2 separate regions of the Homo sapiens genome follow, and region 1 is linked to region 2. The links come from fine-mapping of genetic effects on gene expression. A gene starts in region 2. The other region holds a variant in brackets. All regions are shown on one strand. Distances are from middle to middle. Region 1 overlaps UBAC2 (UBA domain containing 2). Region 2 holds the start of GPR18 (G protein-coupled receptor 18).

Region 1 (10,849 bases), 25 kb before region 2:
TTTAAGAGGGCAATACAATAAATTATTTCCTTTTTGTTTCAAGAGTTCACCTTCCTCAAAAATTTTAAAGCTGTTGTCTATCTGCATGCTAACTGTGTGGCTTCTCGTAGTTAGTAATGCTCTTAGACATCCTGTCCACTCAACTGAAAACCACTCCAGAGCAGGGGCCACGTTACTTTCTGCCCCACATGGCACCTACTGCAACTGATCCAAAACAAGAACTCAAGTGCTTTTCTGATTGGCTTTTATCCATTTTCTCAGAGTGTTAAAACATTTATTTCTGGTTTCTGTACAAGAATGACTTTTCCCAGGCAGATTTTGAGAAGAAAAAAGTGTGTCAGAATGAAACTACATGGAGGCTACAAAAGGTTTGAGACCTAATCTAAAAAAAGTAACATTTTGATACGTTCTTATTGCTTGAGGGCAGCAGTCCCACAATTTTCCCATCAAGTCCTGGCATGAAGTATCAAATTTTTTGGCAGGGGCTACATAGTAAAAATGTATAAGGTTACTGCCTATATTAGCCTATAAAAATAAATGCAAACAGTATGTTTTAGCATATCATATATTATATGTTCAAGAGAGTAATGAAAGTATATGCAAGTGCCATTTCATGTATTATTGCTTATTATTTTCCCCAGTAAGGGAGCAAGGGCAAGAAGGTCCTAAAGTTGAACATTATTGGTTTGTTAAAAGAACAGCAGTTAAGGCTGCACGTGGTGGCTCACGCCTATAATCCCAGCACTTTGGCAGGCTGAGACAGGAGGCTCACTTGAGCCCAGGAATTGGAGATCAGCCTGGGCAACATGGCGAAACCTCGTCTCTACCAAAAAAAAAAAAAAAAAAAAAGAAAGAAAAAAAAAAGAAGAAAGAAAGATATTTTTCCTTACTCTTGTTACAACATGGGGTGGAGGCAGAAGTTCAGGGATGGGTTCAGAAAGAACTGAGGCTGGTGTGGGAGAATCACCTGAGCTCAGCAAGTCAAGGCTGCAGTTAGTCATGATCGTGCCACTGCACTTCAGCCTGGGTGAGAGTGAGACCCTGTCTCAAAATTTAAAAAAAAAAGAACAGCAGTTAAGAAGACGACATTATCAAAACAGACCCACAGGCCTGATACACATGTGACAAGAGATCAAGGCAATCCTGGTTCTCAGTCCCAACAATCTCCTATGAGCTCTACTTGAAACCTGGTACCTGCCTGTGCCTGCACCTGACACTCAGGCCTCTGGGGAGGCCCGTAGAGATACTGGCAAATCTGAGGCAAGGGCAGGGTTGAGGGACACTGCAGGCTAACACCATGCAGATTTTAGGAACCACATGGTAAAATGAAAAATGGAAACCAGTGTCCCATTAGGGATCCAACTGTCAAATTATTTGAAGTTTGTGTGTTTGAAAAAATGATTAAAAGGTGATGGGTACATGGTAGTCATTATACCATTCTCTCTGTATTTATGTATATTTGAAAATTTCTGTAATAAATTTCTAAAAATGGTAAGTATGTTCTCTAACACATGCCCTTACTCTTGTTACATCGGGGGTAGAGGCAGAAATTCAGGGATGGATTCAGAAAGAACTGAGACACAGTTACCAGTCTCCATCTCCAATCAGTTAAGCACAGCAATTCAAATCATAGGAGAATGGGACGCGCACTGGCCACATTCTAAGGTTACATGTGAGGGGAGTCTCAGCAGACCTTCAAGGAGTCCTAAGAATAACGTGGCAACAGCAAACTAAATTCTGCATGTTTGTACGTATAAGTGGGAGCTAAACATTGAATACACATGGACACGAAGATAGGAACAACAGAATAGACACTGGGGACTGCTTGTTGGGGGAGTGTGGGGTGATGGAGGTTGAAAAGCCACATATGGGGTACTATGGTCACTACCTGGGTGATGGGCTCATTTGTACCCCAAGCCTGAGTGACACACAATTTACCCATGTAATAAACCTGCATATGTACCCCCCGAACCTAAAAGTGGGAAAAAAATTAAAAATAAATAAATATTAAAAAAAAGAAGTCCTAATAAGAGATGGCTGGTGGTAACAAAGTCACCAGCAAAGAATAGGTTATACCAGAAAGCCACATGAAAAGATCAGCAAGGCTTCATAAACACACACACAATGTTCTTTGAGGAACTTGATCTCCTAACACAAAGGACCACAAGGAAGAACTATGTCCCAGTTCAAATCTAAATGTTTCAGATCCAGGTATGTTGCTTTGTATATATACATTTGAAGTCAAATATAAATGTTACATTCTTTTGATTAGCAGTTCTGTCAGCCAAGGTTCAGTTATAGATAACAGAAATCTTGTCAGCTATTTTGGGCAGCAGATTTAGTACACAGAATTCGGTGCTTATACAATTGCTGAAAAGGCTAGAAGGCCAGATCCAGCGCCTCCAGGAATAGACTCCTGGAACACATAAGGACTGGTCTACCAGGAGAACTGTTTCCTCTGACACACTGAGGCAGCTGGGAAATCACAAAAGTTAATTACATCAACTGTGAGCTCCAAGGTCAAACCACTTTGGCAGAGTCTAGGGATCAGGGAGTTTCAGGGAGTTGAACTGTGAACTCTGGCACCCCGTTGGATGTGTAGAACTGCACCAGGAAAATGGCTATCTCATATGCCTTGGCTCATACTGAATTCAAGAGCCACACGTTTTTCTGAATAATGGAACCTAAATCATATCCAGAACTCCAGGCAAGGGAGTTTAAGAAATAGAGCATTCAGCTTTCCAACCTCTGCTTTATGGGAAGTACACTAGGAGAACCCTGGAACAGATAATGAGCCAGCTGGCCGGGCATGGTGGCTCATGCCTATAATCCCAACACTCTGGGAGGCCAAGGCAGGAGGGTCACTTGAGGCCAGGAGTTTGAGACCAGCCTGGGCAACATAACGAGACGTTGTCTCTATAAAAAATTAAGAATTAGCTGGGCGTGGTGGCACATGCCTGTAGTCCTAGCTACTCAGGAGGCTAAGGCAGGAGGATCCCTTGAGCCCAGAAGTTTGACGTTACAGTGAGCTACAATCGCACCACTGCACTCCAGCCTGGGTGACAGAGCAAGACAATTGTCTCTTAAAAAAAAAAAAAAGAAGAAAGGTAATAATAAATAATGAGCCAGTTAATCTAGTATACCCACCATACCATTCTAATAAAGTACAAAAATACTCTACCAAAGGGAGGAAGAAGAGGAGGAAGAGGAGGAGCAGGAGGAGCAGCAGCAGCAGCAGCAGCTACTTAAGACACACCACAATCGAATGCAAAAGCAAATGTAAAAGGGCATTTCCAAGCTAATAGGATAAATGTGGAAACAGTAGTTTCAGTAGTAAATAATATTACAGAATTATGAATAATTTTGTTAGGTAAGGTAACATTATGGTTATATAAGAAATGCCATTTTAGAGCTTTCTGAAATATGAAATATGATATTATGATGTCTGGAAATTGCTTCAAAATACTTTTAAAATGCCAGGGAATGGAAAGAGGATAGCAAAAATGTTAATTACTGAATCTGGGTAATAGGGCTCATTTTATTCTCTCTGCTTGTGTCACTGAAATTTTTCATGAAAAAGTTATAAAATGTTATTCCAAGAGAAATACGAAAACTACACATTATTTTCATCTACTGCTTCACCTTCACAAACTTTAATTTTCCAGCAGCCTTAGAATATGTATCGTTTTCTGTAAGTCCTGGCTTACAGTCTTCAAAAATGCCAAGGTCGCCCAAGACAGACTGAGGAACAGTCCGGATTAAACAGTAAGGGGATGTACCAATGAAATGCAACATGTAATACTGAACCAGACGATGGACTAGAATTTTGATTTTCCTTTTTGCCATAAAGGACATTATTTGGACAATTGCCAGATGTGAATAAAGTAATACATACTCATGGTATTTTGGAGTCAAAGGGACATTATGTCTACAACTTGCTTTCAAATGATTCAGAAAAAATACTGTGTAGAGAGAAAATGATAACAGCAAATGCGGAAAATGTTAATAACGGGGGCATCTGGTTTTAGGGTATATGGGAGTTCTTTGTTTTATCCTTGCAACTTTTCTATAAACCAGAACTATTTTAAAATTTTCAAAAAGTATAAAACATAAGTGGCAGCATTTGGTAGCTACTGAAAAGAAACAGCAGTTTCTTCAGTCTATTAAATGAAAATACAAGTAATAGCTAAATAACTGGAGTGTCATATAGTGCTTCTTCAGGCCCCATTCATGGGGGCACTTCCCCCCAATTGGAACTTTTTTTCTTTGCATTGTGTGTTTATTTGTACTTCTTATTTTAGCAGCAAAGTTTGAATACAATCATATAAGTTGTCTTTGGACATTTACATTGCTAAAGTTGAAATACACAGCCTCAGTCTGGCAAGTTAAAATGCTCAAGTTGCTTCCTGCTATAGTGACCATTAACTAGACTGTTTTACCTTTAAAAATAAAGTGGCATTGGCCAGGCGTGGTGGCTCACGCCTGTTATCCCAGCACTTTGGGAGGCCAAGGCAGACAGATCACGAGGTCAGGAGTTTGAGACCAGCCTGACCTACATGGTGAAACACCGTCTCTATTAAAAATACAAAAATTAGCTGGGCGTGGTGGCACACGCCTGTAATTTCAGCTACTCAGGAGGCTGAGGCAGGAGAATAGCTTGAACCCGGGAGGCAGAGGCTGCAGTGAGCCGAGATAGCACCACTGCACTCTGGCCTGGGTAAAAGAGCAAGACTCAGTCTCAAAAAAAAAAAAAAAAAAAAAAAAAAAAAAAAAAAAAAAGGTGGCATTAAGGCATTAAGGAAATGTCTGAGCCACAATTCAGACAGGCATGAGTTTCCATCCAGGCTTGCCACTTAAGTAGCCGTCACTTAGTGACTCAATCCTCAGACCCTCAGCTTTCTCATGTAGAACACAGCAATAGCAACATCTACTCTTGCAAGTCTGCTTGTGGCTATTCATTTAAATCTGGCTATTCATTTAAATCAGGAACATATGTCAAACAAGGCTCTACGGTACAAAATTGTTCAATATAAATTTATTAAGATTTCTTAAGAGAAAGGGTAAATCCTGCTGTCAAAAAAAAATCTCCAAATGGAATGCGTAATGTTAACATTTCATAATGTTACTCCATATTTTTCCTTCATATTGTCACTGATATTAACAAACCTATCCTTGGTATTGTCATTTATTTATACAGCAAATAATTATCAAGTGTCTCTATGAACCAGCTGCTATTCTACACACTGGAATAACAGCTGAAAACCACACAGACCAAGTTGCTCTCTGAATCCTACATCCTAGAAGCCAATATTAAACATTAAGTAAGTAAACAAAATAATTTTAGGAGAGAGAACTGTAAAGTGTTGATTCTAGCTCTGGTGTACCCATGACTGATTATTTGCCTTCCTAAATATTCTCTGAGCTACTTTAATAAATTCCCTTTCTGCTGAATCAGCCAGAATTCATTCTATTACTTCAACTAACAATCCAGCCAAAACAGGGATGCCTATTCTCTTGTAACTGACAAAGCCTTTTTCCTTTAGTTCAGATAACAAAAGCACATTAGATTTCAAGCACATTAGATATTTCAGAACTCAACACATAACATATACCAAAAAATCCAACCCTAAGACAGGTATGAGATTATTTTTGTGTGCTGTATATTTTGCTATAGTTACCAAGACATGGTTAGCATTTTGAATTTTTTTTCTTAGAACAATACAATGATCTAAATCTAAAATCTTTCACAAGGTGCAACTTTCCAGTGATAAACAAGAACAGGAAGTGAATCTTGAATACAACCAGACTTCAAGTTCCCTTCACTATTAAAGTATCTCCTTTGCTGTCTGTTACCTGAGTCTCACTTAACCAGCGTTAAACTTCCATCATTCTAGCCCAACAGTTATAAATATCTTTATTTCTTTTTGAACAAAACATATTTCCTATTAGACTGGAAATTTTGACACACTCAAATGTTTGAAGTCCCAAGAGGAAGACAGCTAAAATAAAAGGAATTGAGCAGCAAAGCAACTCAGAAAAGCAGAAATGAAAACAGATGTTAAACCTCTTTAAAACAAATTTTTACTAATAGCCTCAACCAAAGCTATTTCAGTCAACTACTAGAAATATTCTACCTAGTCAAAAGTTCTCAACAAGCTTCCTAGGTCATGAGCTCCTCAAGGGTGTGGGCTAACTCTTTCCAGGGTTCTATCTACCACCCAGCATCATGCATGTCATGACTCTCCATCATGGGTGATTTTGCCCCCC[A/CA]AGTGTCATTTGGCATTATCTGGAGACATTTTTAGTTGTCATGACTGGGGTAAGACTGGGGAAAGGAGGTTTTGCTAACAGCATACACTGGGTGGAGGCCAGTGATGCTGCCAGCCACCCTGCAGTGCACGGGACCGCCCCCACCGCAAAGGGTTATGCAACTAAAATGTCAAAAGTGCTGAGGGTGAGGAAACTCTAGCTTAGGTCAATGATGCCACTGCCCTTCATGTTCAAATACAAAATCACTTATCATGTGGCTTCATGTAGACTTCTGGCAACAGCTTACACGCCCTTTTAAACTGGATACATTAGGTCTGCTCCCTGGTAAGACACTCTGGCCACTGAGACCGCAGTTTGAAATTCCTGCAGTGTTAAAAGCCTGAGTCTCCTTTCACAATTAGCCAGCAATCCATAAGGTAAGTACCTCTGCACGCCACTTTGATTCAGAAGGCACAGATCTTCAAACATTACTAAAATCTTGTTAAAATGATTGGCAATCTCAGTTCCTAATCAGTCCTCAGGCAATGTCAAGACATAAGTGAGACAAGAAAAGCCTCTTCCTCTTGTTATGTATCTTCTAACATCATGATTTTTCTTTTATCAATTTATAGAAAATAGCGCTGAAGGTTTCTGAGCCTGTTTCCTCAAAGTAGATGCGAGTTCTCACCTTCCAGGGCTGTTCTAAGGAGAGAAAGTGGCACACCTGCAGAGTGTCTGGGATGAGCCTGGCGTGTGCTTGCTGACTACCAAGGTGACATAGTACCAAGTACAATGCCGGACACATGGTATCCAACACCCAAATACTGAACTGAGCCCAAAGTGTGAGAACTTTTTGGTTGAGAAAGGAGATATCTTGTGAATATAAGAATGAATGGATTATATGCTTCTCTCTTAGGTAAGATGCTGGAAATGATTTTATAAGTCCACATTTCAATCCTTAAAAAAAAAAATCACTGAACCCAAATGTGAAATTCAACTTTTATACTTTTTTGTTGTTGCTGTTGTTTTTTTTTGTTTTGTTTTGTTTTGTTTTTTTTGAGATGGAGTCTCGCTCTGTCACCCAGGCTGGAGTACCATGGTGTGATCTCATCTCACTGCAACCTCCTCTGCCTCCTGGGTTCAAGCTATTCTCCTGCCTCAGCCTCCCAAGTAGCTGGGATTACAGGTGCCCGCCAACACACCTGGCTTATTTTTGTATTTTTAGCAGAGATGGAGTTTCACTATGTTGGCCACGCTGGTCTCAAACTCCTGACCTCAAGTGATCTGCCTGCCTCGGCCTCCCAAAGTGATGGGATTACAGGCGTGAGCCACCACGCCCAGCCTACATTTTTCTCTTAAGTAACAGATTTGAGGTAGCTTACTGAGTGAGAAAGAGAGAGAGAGAGAGAGAGAGAGGGAAAGAAGAAGGAAGGAAGAAGGGAGGGAAGGAAGAAAGGAAAAAGGACATTAGCAGAGACACAATAATTTAGTGCAAAAAAATAACTGAAGCAACTAGCATGTGGCAGACCGATCCCAGTCAGCTTTCTTTGTCCCTTTGGTATTAAAGAACACTCTTCACTACTCCATGCTGAGGGAGCTGTAAGAGAGAGTAAGATCCTGCTCTTTCAAAAGCATCCAGTTGAGAGAGTGGTCAATTAGGTAAATAATTACCATCTCAAGTAATGAATGTTTCACATAACTTACAAGCACAAAGTTAACTGGGAGCAAGAAGGAAGGAGAGGTTAATTCCAACTCTGGCTGGAGCAGGGTTTCGTGGAGCAGAGCTACCCAAGGGGACACTTGAAGTTCTCCTTGTTTTCTTGGTAGAAGTTTGTCAAGCAAAGGGGAGAAGGGATGTTGTAACCACAATTGTCGTAATAAATGAATCCAGAGAAATCTGTAATGATGTATGCGTGACAGGCAGTAGTGAGTAATGCAATTTAGCTGACATGCAGAGTACAAGGAAGGAATGACAGAAAATGAGGCTGGGAAGATTGGCTGGAGCTCTGAGGTGTGTCACAAGCAAGTTAAACTTTATAAAACAGCAGGAGGAAGCCATAGGAGATTTCTCAAGGTGTAAAGGAATAAGACCAGATCTCCTTTGTAGATAAAATTAGGGGAGTGGGGCAGTGCAGATGATGGCATTGAGATGGTGACAGGGAGAACAGTTAGGAGGCTACAGCAATAGTCCAAACCAAAGGAGATGAAATCAAAAGATCAAATACTTTTCATTAATCTATTTGCTCTATCAATCCATCCATCTCACAGTTGTGTCCACTATGTGGGAGCCACTATGCTAACCAAGTGCTATCAACTGAATGTTTCTGTCCTCTCCAAATTCACATGTTAAAATCCTAACCCCCAGTGTGATGCTCTTAGGAGGTGGGGCTTTTGAGTGGTGATTAGGTCATGAGGGTAGAGTCTTCACAAATAGGATTAGTGCCCTTATAAAAGGGAACCCATTGAACTCTCTGCTTTCTGCCATGTGAGGACACCACGAAAAGACAGCCCCAAACACCAAATCTGCCAGTGCCTTGATCCTGGACTTCTCAGCCTCCAGAACTGTGAGAAATAAATTTCGGTTGTTTATAAGTCACACAGTCTAGGGCATTTTGTTAGAGGAGCCTGAACAGGCTAAGGCAGTGAGGCATCATTAGTGAGACAAACTAACACAGTCTCCTCCTGGCACAAAGTCTGTATTCTAGTGGAGGTGGCAGGTATCAAATCATTTGTTACATCTTATTTACTATCTATAGTGATGAGTGCTATAAGAAAGAAAAATGTTCTAAGAAAGCATATCACAAGAGACTGTGACCTAGTCTGAGGGTGGGGGTAGTCAAAGACAGCTTCTGCAAAAAATTACCTTTAAGCTTCTCTTGAAACACTTGAATGGTGGCAGTTTATTCTCTCACATCCTTCATTCTAGATACAAATTTTGATCAACTTTTTATTAGTCAACTTTGCTCTGTGCAATCACATTCAAGCATTTAAGTATTTATTTACTAAAATCCCCGGTAGGGCTAACCAAACCAGTAGGTACTGTTGGGAGGGGAAGAGGAGTGGGGATCAGTGCAAAAGCAGGGGAGATAAAGGGGTAAGAAAAGGGGGAAAAGGAGAAAAGAGGTGGCAAGCCGAGAGGGAGGTGGGAAAAGGAAGGAGAAAGGGAACAGCTTAAAATCCAAAGGCTTTGGCTACACAACAGCAGACTAAAGTCTACTTTTCTCAGTATAAATACTGAGTAACTCATGAAGGAAAGTCAACATTCACACACATTTGTTATAATCAATACTCAGAAATATAATTCTCTGCAAACTGATGATCATGAGGAACCATAAGCCTGACAGTTTCTGTTGCTTTACCTTGACTTGGAGGCATGGCGGTTTTAGATTCAAGTGATGTAGGTTAAAATTTCAACTGAGTTATATGTTCCTGGACAGATTTCTTAGTCTCTCTAAAAATGTTTTCGTACCAGTAAAACAGATATAACCCTATCAACAAAGTTTATTTTTTAAATAGGAATTAAAGGAGAGAAGATATCTAAAATATCTATCCATTCAACTTATCTAATCTATTATTCCAAACATGTTAATGTGATCGCTTCAAATTTGGAGATCCAGGTAGTCCTATTTTTAGGTTGAGAAATATCACTTTTTTTCACTTTTAAAGACACTGATCATTTTTCAAGCTATGATGATTATTTATATGTTGGCTATTTAGCCCAAATTCAAAGCAGAGACACAATAATTTAGAAAGCTAACTGTCACTTATTGCTAACTTTGCCCACAATACCCACTTCCCTTAAAAATACTCCAACGGTTGCAATTCGAGATGACCACAGATGATTGTAGGTGTGCTGCTACTCTCTGACTAGCCCTCACCTCCAGACAGGCAATCCCTTCACGCGCCCGAGAAAGTGAATACCACTGCCTGGTACCAACTCTATTGCCACATGTATTAATAATGTGGTAACAGTTAATTAATAATAGCATAGCCCAAATGAAAGCCACACACAGGACTACAAATTTAAGAAAAATATTACATAAAATACCTATAATGGATTCTTTTAAATAGGTCTAAATAACCAAATTAATCCACAGAATAATGTTGGTGTCACCATCACAGCTATTTCTTAGCTTCCGAAATTATCTGTGCCTAGTCCTGGAAAGCTTTATCCTGTGCAATGCAAGAGGCAGAACTGGAAAACATGGAGAAGGTAAGACCTGTGCCCTACATTAATCTGCTCATCGAGAACAGCAGGAAAGGCCCTTCTATGGGGAGACCATGAGGAAATTTATCCTGCAGAAACTGGGTATCTGCAGATATTAGAAGAACGTTATGTTCCTACAGATGGATCCCGAGACTAAGCAAGTTCCCTCTTGCTCATTTACCACCACCCACCTCCAGATTAGAGGCTTGATGAGGCTTGCGGGTGGTGACAGAGGGGATGGGGCAAGAGTGCCTGAAATACTCAAAGCCCCAGTAAGTAGGCCCAGAAAGTGAGACAATAGAGCACAGTGATTACAAGGCCTATTTTATTTCAAGTAAGAGAGTGATGCTGGAGGATGACACAATGTAAAATGGCCTTAATAAAATGTCTGAATGA
Region 2 (10,849 bases):
GAATCATATGATATGAATTCCTTCATGTCTGGCTTTTTCAACTTAACACTAGATTCATGAGATTCATCCATGTTGTTCTATCTGCCCTGTGTATCATCAATTGTGATTGTGACTTGCACTCCACTCTATGCCTACACCACAAGTGACTTATTCATGCTATAGTTGAACATTCAGGTTGTTCCTAATTTGGAGTTGTTGTAAATAATGTTACCGTGAACATTCTTGTCCATGTCTCCTGGTACGCAGCATGTGTTTTTACTGGTTATAGACCTAGGAGTGGACTCTGAGTCATGGAGTGTTGGTATCTTCATTTTAATACTTAAACTGTTTTCCATATTTAAACTCCCACCAGCAATGTTCCTTGTTACTCGATACCCTCATCACTCAACATCCTTGCCAGCACTTTGCACTGTCCGTCTTTTTCATCGTAGGCATTCTGGCGAATGGATAATACCCTGCTGTGGTTTTAATTTTCATTTTCCCAATTATTAATAAAAAGTTGAGCAGATTTACATGTTGCTGACCATTTGGATCTACTCATTCTTAAGTGCTTGTTCAAGTCTTTTGGCCATGGAATGGCAGAGATCCCAGACACCACAATTACATGTACGAGCTGCCAGGATCCAGCTATAAAACCTTTCCTTGAGAATATCAACTCATTAGCAAGAAACAGGGAGATAAAAAGATGGTCTATTCCCTCAGGAGATTGTTTGCTATAAGTCAAATTACCATTTATGATGATTCTCTATTAAGTAGGGCCAACTTCAACAAAAATTACTAAAACGAAGTATAATATTATAATGCAAAATACAGAAAGAACATACAATCTGAGAGTCATGAGTAAATATTTCTGGGTCACACCATGTAAACTACATACTTTGCAGTCAGCATGAAGGTTAAGTTAGCTCAAGCATGTGAGGCTCTCAGAATCATGCCTGACAGTCACCTCTGATTACCTTTCATAATTTAGTTAAGAATAATGGCAGATATAATAAAAAATCCTAAGTAACTTGTCTTAAACCAACAACCCTCAACCTTATAGATACATGTTTACTTTTACTATACAAATGGCTGTGTACTAAAATCCTCAACCACACACACTATTATATAGGTTTATGTTTAAATAACCTGATAACACATCTCTTGTTCCTTTACCTTCCACAAGTCCTTTTTTTTTTTTTTTTTTTTTTTTTTTTTTGAGAGGGAGTTCTGCTCTGTTGCCCAGGCTGGAGTTCAGCCTCAGCTCACTGCATTCTTGGCTCACTGCAACCTCCATCTCCCGGGTTCAAGCGATTCTCCTGCCTCAGCCTCCTGAGTAGCTGGGATTATAGGCACGCACCACCATGCCCAGCTAATTTTTGTATTTTTAGTAGAGACAGGGTTTTGCCATGTTGGCCAGGCTAGTCTCGAACTCCTGACCTCAGGTGATCCACCCGCCTCAGCCTCCCAAAGTGCTGGGATTACAGGCATGAGCCACCGTGCCCAGCCCTCCTCTTTCTTCTGAAATGCACTTCCTCATATTACTAGGTGTTAACTATACAGTGGTTCCCCCTTATTCTCAGAGGATACATTCCAAGACCCCCAGTGGATGCCTGAAACTGCAGATAGTACCAAACCCTATACTTACTATTTTTTTCCTGTACATACATACCTATGATAAAGTTTAACTTATACATTAGGCTCAGTACCTTTGTGTTTTGGGACCATTATTAATTAAATAAGGGTTACTGGAACACAAGCACTGTGACACTGTGACAGTAAACCTGATCACCAAGGTGGCTATGAAAGTGACTAATGAGTGGGAATGTCTACAGTGTGGAGACACTGGGCAAAGGGAGGACTCATGTCCTGGGGAGGAAGGAGCGGGACAGTGAGAGATTTCATCCTGCTGCTCAGAATGGCATGCAACAGAAAACTTATGAATTGTTTATTTCTGGAATTTTTCCATTTAATATTTTCAGACCATATTTGACTGAAGGTAACTGAAGGTAACTGAAGCCTCAGACAGCAAAATTGCGGATAAGGGGACTACTGTATACCCATCTCCATTTGCACCTCTGGTAACTGTGAGATCAGAATGTGCAGCAGAAGGCTGTGTGCCTCACAATAACCATGGAGTTCTGCTCAATCTGCTGCCTTGGCGACTCTGGATCTCTCTTCCAATAGTAAAATGTCACACTGCAAACTCTGGGCCTGGGGTCCCATGGGACTTCAGTGGTTCCAGGACTGATTTCACTGCCATCACTTATATATGGTTAGATATGGATTCAACTTGTTTGCTGTGAGGTTAAGTGTCTGAATGTCTACATGTCTATACATCTTTAAAACTACACACAAAAATTGCTAAAGACAAGAAATTTGGGAATATTAAATTTACAATACAATTTAGGAAACCAAACAGAAAGGAGGTATACTAACTGGGTTAGAAGATTATAGCTGTAAATTGTTGGGACTTAAGAAAAACCACACATTTAGACAAATAGTTTCTCAATCTTCTTTATGCAGAAACTCTTACTATTCAACATATCTCCCCTACACCCACACCCAAAGAGCAGTCAGTTTAGATACAAGTTTGAGAAACAGAAAGGAGGGGACAAAGGTTGGAGGATGTCAAGGCCAAAGGATAGGCCTCTCCTCTAGTTCAGAGGACTCTTTGTCTGCCTCACACCCTCTTCTCCCTGGGGACTGGCTGTGTGCTGACTGTCCCCCTGCTGGGATACATGAACAGTAACAACAGTGGACCCCTGGTCCCCGCACTGATGGGAGGCAACAAGGATAAGCTGCCCTCACACTTGCTATGCTAACAGAACAGGAAATATTATTTTACCTGTGGCATAGACAAATGTCTAACATAGAAGCATATTTTATAGTGGGAATTTGCTATACAGATCTATTAACTACATTCTTTCTCATTAAAAACTGGCTTAACTGAATTATATTCACTCAAAAACTGGTTTATAGGGCTAAAATCAAAATTCACTTATGGCTTTTAATATCAAAACCAAAACCCAAAACTGCAGCTAAAACACACTATTTGATAAAGCAAAGGGAATCTTGCAGTCTCTGGGAATAAGTAAAATCCCTCTTTTGCAAGTGAAACATTTCTCCTTCACTCATATTCCAAAGTAAGTGAAGAAATTAAAGCTGCATGAATGGTCCCTGAATAAGTTCCTCTGTTTGGGGAAAAAAAAAAATTCATTAGGTTCAAGTATTAAAGAAACTTGTGTCTACATTATACAAGTTGAATCCTTGACCCATTGTTTACTTGCTGTCAAATGACTGGGCAGTTTCTTTTCACTATAATTCCCTGCCAACACAAAACCATCGCGAAGATCCAGGAGCACAGCGAACGGGGGTCAATGCTATAGGGCTCATGGGTTGCAGGGGAGGACGACAGACCTCAGGCCCTTGCCTAAGTCTCCCCATCTCATAAGCTGGTCAAAGTGTCCCTGCCTGCTGACTCAAGGCCCAGACATTTATCCATTCCTCCCCCAACCTCTCCATTTCTTCACCTACTTGTTCAGTCAGAAATTCAACCAATATTAAATGCCTCTTCTCTACACACATATGCAACACATGCCAACTCTCAAGGAATGCAATTTAGTGGAGGAGAAAAAGCAAGTAAATATGCAGTAACAATGCAAACATGTGCCACTACAGGGATAGGTACCAAGTGCTAAGGAAACCTGCAGGGATGAACAACCAGCCCAGCTTCGGAGGGCAGAGAAACCAGCCCAGCTTCGGATGGCAGAGAAAGCTTCCTGAAAAAGGTAGCTACAAGAACAAAGAGCAGCAGGCCATGCCATCAGGTGGGAGACAGTGGTGAGGAATGCCACAGTGGGTGGAACAGCATGTGAGAGGCAGGAAGAGCAAATGTAGCCAGTCCAGAGGGCTGGAATGGAGAGCAAGATGAGGAAAAAGTGAGAGCTCACCCCAACCTGAAGCCAGGCCTATGGAGAGCCCTCAGGTGCTCCTGGATGCCTCCTCTAAGAGTCTGGCAATTCAGAAACAAGAATGCCCCTGTGCACCGTGAAGAATTCAAGTCTTGATGAAAGGACTCTTCTAGACACATGCCATCAATGTATCTGTTGATTTTAGCAGCAATGGGGAAGCTAATCAATACTTAATTTTAGAAAAGTCCTAAGCTATGTGAATAAGGCAAAGGACAGATTAGGTCTGCATGCAGGCAGATTTCTGTCCAGCTGAAACATCAAACTCCTGTGTGATGAATGAAATATAACATCACATATAAAAAACTGATGAATGTGATTCAGCCATAAGAAGTCCTATCTAGTGGACAGATCAATATAATTACCTCATAAGAAGTTATTACAGCGGGAGAAACTGGACCTGGCTTTACCTTGAGTTCTTAAGCAAGTAACTGGCCTTCAATTTCTTCATCCACACAAGAAATAGTTGCTATGGTTGTCTCCAACACTTCTAAAACCCATCATTCTGGCAGGTTGTAACAATCAAAAGTATTTTATCACCAAAGGCAAGGATTTAAGTAACTTTTCTAAGCCACAGATTTACTATGGTTTTGTCTGAGAAAAAAAAAAAAAAGGATGGACCCCAAACTGTCTAAAATTCAAAAAAACAAATACATTTAAGTTCATGAACCCTTTAAAAAGTTGACAAACCATGCATAACCAAACATAAAGATAATTAAAATTTTAGGATAAGCAAATGAGAGATAATTTTTTTTAAGAAATGAGAAAGTAAAACAAAATTAACCTAACAAGGCAGGCAGCGATTCGTTGCTCACTTCCCTTTCTGCTGGTTTCATTTCCCTTCTTAGGTGAAAACACTCTTAATATGTAAATCAGTCCACTAAAGACTTCAGAGTCCTTTCTGCTAAGATTTGCAGAAATTTTTATGCAAAAGAAATTATTTCTAGACTTCCACGCACTAGAAAAGCAGACTTACAAAATACAGCAAACTAAAGTGGATAAATGTATGTGGCAAAGCAGAAGCAATTAATCAAGGATCCTACTTTTAAGCATTTAGAAATGTTTAAATAGTAAAAAGTGGAAATGTGGATATTCTATGATTTTTAATAACTTGGTAGTAAAAAGTGAGACTCCATTTAGGAGTACCTACTAAGTGCCAGGTACTATTAAGCACTTGGGATCTTTCTGGTTTAGGGCCCCTACAATCCTACTGGATATAGTATTATCTCTATTTCAACTGTACAGAAATGAAGTAGGAACAAAGGGTTAGTCAGAGTGGGTAGGTAACTAGACAAAGTCACATAGCTTATAAAGCAAAGAAGCTAGACTTTAAACCCCCTTTTACTCAATATCAAATCTTCTCTTTCCATAGATGATGCAGACTTCAAGCATCAAAGTACACAAACTGAAGAAACTTTATCCTTTGTATATAATTATCTTAAATATATGCCATCATTTCAAGGGGAGCTTATGCTAAGTGTGACTTCATAAACAAATCATTTGTGAAAGAGAAAAACCACATCCAGGGTAAAGTCATAAGGTGAAAAAGCCTATTTCAGAGAGCACTTCCTGAAAGAGACAAAGCAGCAATTAAAGTCAGCCCAGCACCAACTCCGACGCCAAGCGTTACACTGGAAACTACTTTTTAAAGCAACAAAAGAGTCTAAAACAAAATACAACATTTCTTAAATACACTGTTTCCAGAAAGAGCTATTTTAACAGAAGCAACTCAAAGATATCCCTTCGACAGAAGTGGAAGTGCTGAAAAATGCTCATCTCTCACACAGACTTTTGATGGACAGGAGGTAAGCAGCATTTAATTAACTTCATGATTATTGTCAAAAGTAATGCTTTATGTACTGCATTTCAAAAATCATTTCATTTTAATAATACAGGCTGGGCGCAATGGCCCACGCCTGTAACTCCAACACTTTGGGAGGCCAAGGCAGGAGGATCAGTTGTGCCCAGGAGCACCATAGTGAGACCCCGTCTCTATTAAAAAAATATATTTAATTAAAAAAATAAACATAACAAACTATGTTGGTGAAAGACCTTGAAATAGGCTATATAATCATCTTTCCACATTAATATGATTTTACATTTATTTTCAATATTGCTTTACATTAATACTAAATGTAATTTTTTTCAACTTAAGGAAAGAAAATGTTTATGGTAAATCATATGTATATTTAGGAATGTTCATCACATGTTTTCAATTACATTGTTTCATGAAATAACTTAATGGTTTTTAAGAAAAGAAAAGCTACAGATAATCATGGTATCTATAGCTTTTAAAAAGCTGACTTTAAAGTCAATCACTTTTCAATATTTATCCAAAAATTTCTGTGTTTGCAGAGCACAATCAATACTATAATGCCTTTAAAACACATGCATCACTCATTTTTTTTCAAACGTCAGCAAATGAATATAAGTATTGGTGACAAGCTACATAAAAACAGCTTGAGCATAACGTGGGAAAAAAGACTCAAGATGGTTTGTAAGTACAGGACTTATGTCACAAAATTGAAGGATGAGGATAGGTGAAGGGAGTCCTGATGCAATACTAAAAAAAGAAAAACAAATACAAAATTTCATTTATATTATAATTGCTACTATTTAATAAGAATGCATTCCAGTTAAAAATAAGATTTAAGCCTCCAAGATTACTCTCCTTTGAATGACACTAGAGATATAATTTTTCTCTGTAGCACTTTCCTCATTTGATAGAAATTAATATTCTAGTCACACCAATATTTGGAAAATTTAATATGTTTTTAAATATATAGAATTATGCTCCTAAATCATATTTAACCTAAATATTTGAGAAGGAAAGAAGGAGAAGAAGGGAAGAAAGGGAAGGGAAGGGAAGGGAAAGGAAGGAAGGCAGACAGGCACGTTTCTTGTGTTTAACCACAGCAATTGCTCAAGTTAATTCTTAATTATCAATAGCCCGTGATGCCACTGACCACAGACAGCAAATCTCCCCCATAGTTTTCCTTAAAGAGAAATTCTGGGCTGATTTCAAGACAGCCCACTCTGCAAAGTGACATTTTTGAAGGAAACTTTTCATCCACCTCCATATTACAAGGGGATGCCACAGATTCCATCTCATTGCAGCAAAGTCTATTTTTGAAGTCTGTTGTTGGTGTTGCATCATGGGGGAATGAAGTTTCACACTGAGGAGTCAATGATATTTGCAACCCCAAATAACCTCCTTTCCATTTAAAATGGACGGTTTTTTTTTTTTTGGTGATGGAAATTTATAAGTTTCTACATACACATCAAGTTACTGAATGACTTCTTATTAATATCTACTTGTCTTAGATACTCCTTTTTTGGATTTACTTTGAAAATTGTTAAAATTTAAATAATATTGAAGCTTCTGAATCTAGATGGAATGAGGATATGAAAGTTACTAACGGCACTAGCTTTTTTCAAGGTGCTGCTTTCTGTGAACCACTGAAGTAGAGCAGCTGAAATCACAAAACCTGGAAGACTTGGCTTTACGTACTCCCAATTGTGCACTAGAAAACAGCTCATCTATTGCTCTAACAGTCTAGTTCTTGATCTGCTGACCATGACACAAAACATTGCTGTTTCTCAACCTATGATAATTTAAAGAGAACATAAGGTAATAAATATTATGAAGTGTTTCCACTTTAAAAAAAACAAAAAGTTTAATAGCCAGCTACACAAGTCTTCATTTTCAAACTAGAGAATTACAAACTAGAGTTTTTTAGCAAAGTAGAGTTGCTGTGAATCATCTCATCAAAAGTTCCTTCATTTATTCATCAATTCAGTAAATATTTATTTATTGAGTACCTATTACATGCTCAATAGACAGTGGGGCTATAGCTGTAACAAAGGAAAAGTTCCCATTCTCTCTCAAATGAGAATTACTGTGAATGTTCAGTAGTTAACCAGTTGAATCGTTCCTTGATTAAATGCTCTCGAACTTAAAATTCACTGGCAGTCAAGCTGAGTGGGAGAATGTTAAGCATTTATTTTTTAACCAACGATTTTATTCTTATTTTTCTTAACTATTTTTACAGTTTCTAAGTATCATGCCTACCAACAAGCTGTAAAATGATCACCCTGAACAATCAAGATCAACCTGTCCCTTTTAACAGCTCACATCCAGATGAATACAAAATTGCAGCCCTTGTCTTCTATAGCTGTATCTTCATAATTGGATTATTTGTTAACATCACTGCATTATGGGTTTTCAGTTGTACCACCAAGAAGAGAACCACGGTAACCATCTATATGATGAATGTGGCATTAGTGGACTTGATATTTATAATGACTTTACCCTTTCGAATGTTTTATTATGCAAAAGATGAATGGCCATTTGGAGAGTACTTCTGCCAGATTCTTGGAGCTCTCACAGTGTTTTACCCAAGCATTGCTTTATGGCTTCTTGCCTTTATTAGTGCTGACAGATACATGGCCATTGTACAGCCGAAGTACGCCAAAGAACTTAAAAACACGTGCAAAGCCGTGCTGGCGTGTGTGGGAGTCTGGATAATGACCCTGACCACGACCACCCCTCTGCTACTGCTCTATAAAGACCCAGATAAAGACTCCACTCCCGCCACCTGCCTCAAGATTTCTGACATCATCTATCTAAAAGCTGTGAACGTGCTGAACCTCACTCGACTGACATTTTTTTTCTTGATTCCTTTGTTCATCATGATTGGGTGCTACTTGGTCATTATTCATAATCTCCTTCACGGCAGGACGTCTAAGCTGAAACCCAAAGTCAAGGAGAAGTCCATAAGGATCATCATCACGCTGCTGGTGCAGGTGCTCGTCTGCTTTATGCCCTTCCACATCTGTTTCGCTTTCCTGATGCTGGGAACGGGGGAGAACAGTTACAATCCCTGGGGAGCCTTTACCACCTTCCTCATGAACCTCAGCACGTGTCTGGATGTGATTCTCTACTACATCGTTTCAAAACAATTTCAGGCTCGAGTCATTAGTGTCATGCTATACCGTAATTACCTTCGAAGCATGCGCAGAAAAAGTTTCCGATCTGGTAGTCTACGGTCACTAAGCAATATAAACAGTGAAATGTTATGAATAATAAGGTTCTTTCATTTCAATCCCATCAAAATTCACTTCACTAACTACTCTGGCGTCAATGGATATTCTGTATAATACTATCAAGTCCCTTTTCTCTTGAAAAAATAAATTCATTATCTTCATTTTAAAAACTTATATAAAACATTTTTGTGAATTATTCAGAGAAAAGCATCTGATTTTTCTTTCCTAGTCAAGCCTTGTTCACACAGATAATTAACTTTTTGCATTTCTATGTGCAAGCGACACATGTGTGTTAATCAAGTCAGTAGGGGGGAAATCGAGCTACCATACAAAATAATTTGATTAAATTATTTTCTATCTAGATGCAGCTCCCTTAGGTCTAATTTGCACTAGGAATGGAATTATAAATCCAATACTTTATGTCCCAAACACTGACTTCCAGAATTCCTATATAAGAAATTATGTTGAACTCATTACTGTTACTTACTACAAGGCAAAATTAATAGCAACAAGAACCCAAGGGGCCTGTTACAGCCATCCCCATCAGCCCTTCCCTACTCTGAATTCATTCTTTTAAAAACAGAGAATAGTCATTCAACAAACACTGAGAGCCTACTATGCACCAAACCCTATTTAGGACTAATGATGAAAATCTAACCTGAGATGCTATTTCTATCCAATAATCCAAGTTCATTTCTATCATTTGAGGTTTCTACTATATGGTGAAATGCCATTCTCCAATACAAACAGTTTGCTCTTCTTATGTGGTTGAAGATACCATTTTTACAAAAGAAGTTAATTGATTTTTTTTCCCAGGCCATATGTCACAGTATAAATAGTACTAGTAGGAACCTTGGATTTCTTAGCCTTGCCATTTAATTTCTCCTAATAAAGTAACAAACCAAGTAACTTATCCATCTAAAAGAAAAAAACTGAACTATAATCTGTAAAGCCCCTATTATCCTGAATACTTATGGAAGTAAAATAAATGATTCAACTATAACTTCCTCTCTGCTAAATTACCTTTATCACTCTTAACATGATCATATCCTACTGGGGCTTAGAACCAAATACATGCATTGGTTAGAAATTTATTTCTGGCTGGGCGTGGTGGCTCACGCCTGTAATCCCAGCACTTTGGGAGGCTGAGGTGGACGGATCACTTGAGGTCAGGAGTTCGAGACCAGCCTGGCCAATATGGTGAAACCTCATCTCTACTAAAAATACAAAAATTAGCCAGGCATGATGGCAGGTTCCTGTAATCCCAGCTACTCGGGAAGCTGAGGCAGGAGAATAGCTTGAACCCAGGAGGCGGAGGCTGCAGTGAGCCGAGATTGCGCCATTGCACTCCAGCCTGGGTGACAAAGCGAGACTCCGTCTCAAAAAAAAAAGAAATTAATTTCTGGAAATAACATAGGTAAATTCATATTCCTTAAAAAAAAAGATAAACACAAAAAGTCTAATAATAAAATGGCATTTTTGCACTAGAAGGTCCCTTAGACAATCTTCTTAGTACAATTCTTCTGTTCGAAATATAAAAAACTGAGGTCTGAAGAGGTTATGTGACTTGCTCAGCTCAAGAACCACACCTAGAAACCAAGGTCAGTTCTTTCATGTCAAACACCAATTTTTCAATAATAAAAAGCAAACATGCTTAAAGAATGTAAACATTCTCAGAGCTACATAAGGTGGTACTGAGATGCAGTTTCTCAATAAAGAGAAAAACACAGTTTTTAGTTTCAATAGTCAAATGAGTAAAATATATATATTTTTATATTTTATATACATAAAGTACCTTTATAGATATTATATCTTTATATATTATTTGTATATCTTACATATATTTAACATAT

What was found.
Region 1: its variant is fine-mapped to the expression of GPR18 in whole blood (TOPMed, PIP above 0.99).

What each region holds. Positions count from the first base shown.
Region 1 is chr13:99,277,644-99,288,492 of GRCh38, reverse strand. All of the region lies in intron 4 of UBAC2 (UBA domain containing 2), which reads right to left. Among named protein-coding and RNA genes, the nearest start is that of GPR183, 24 kb to the left of the region's middle. The variant A/CA (reference allele first, on the strand shown) is at 6,268.
Region 2 is chr13:99,253,060-99,263,908 of GRCh38, reverse strand. It overlaps GPR18 (G protein-coupled receptor 18), which reads left to right and starts at 5,530. Exons shown (of 2, transcript NM_001098200.2): 1 at 5,530-5,755; 2 at 8,003-9,170. The coding sequence starts at 8,037. The coding sequence ends at 9,032. The region is part of intron 4 of UBAC2 (UBA domain containing 2); the gene reads right to left. It overlaps LOC124903198 (a long non-coding RNA gene), which reads left to right and starts at 2,205. Exons shown (of 3, transcript XR_007063846.1): 1 at 2,205-2,286; 2 at 3,661-3,770; 3 at 5,323-5,470. RefSeq lists a silencer at 1,388-1,610.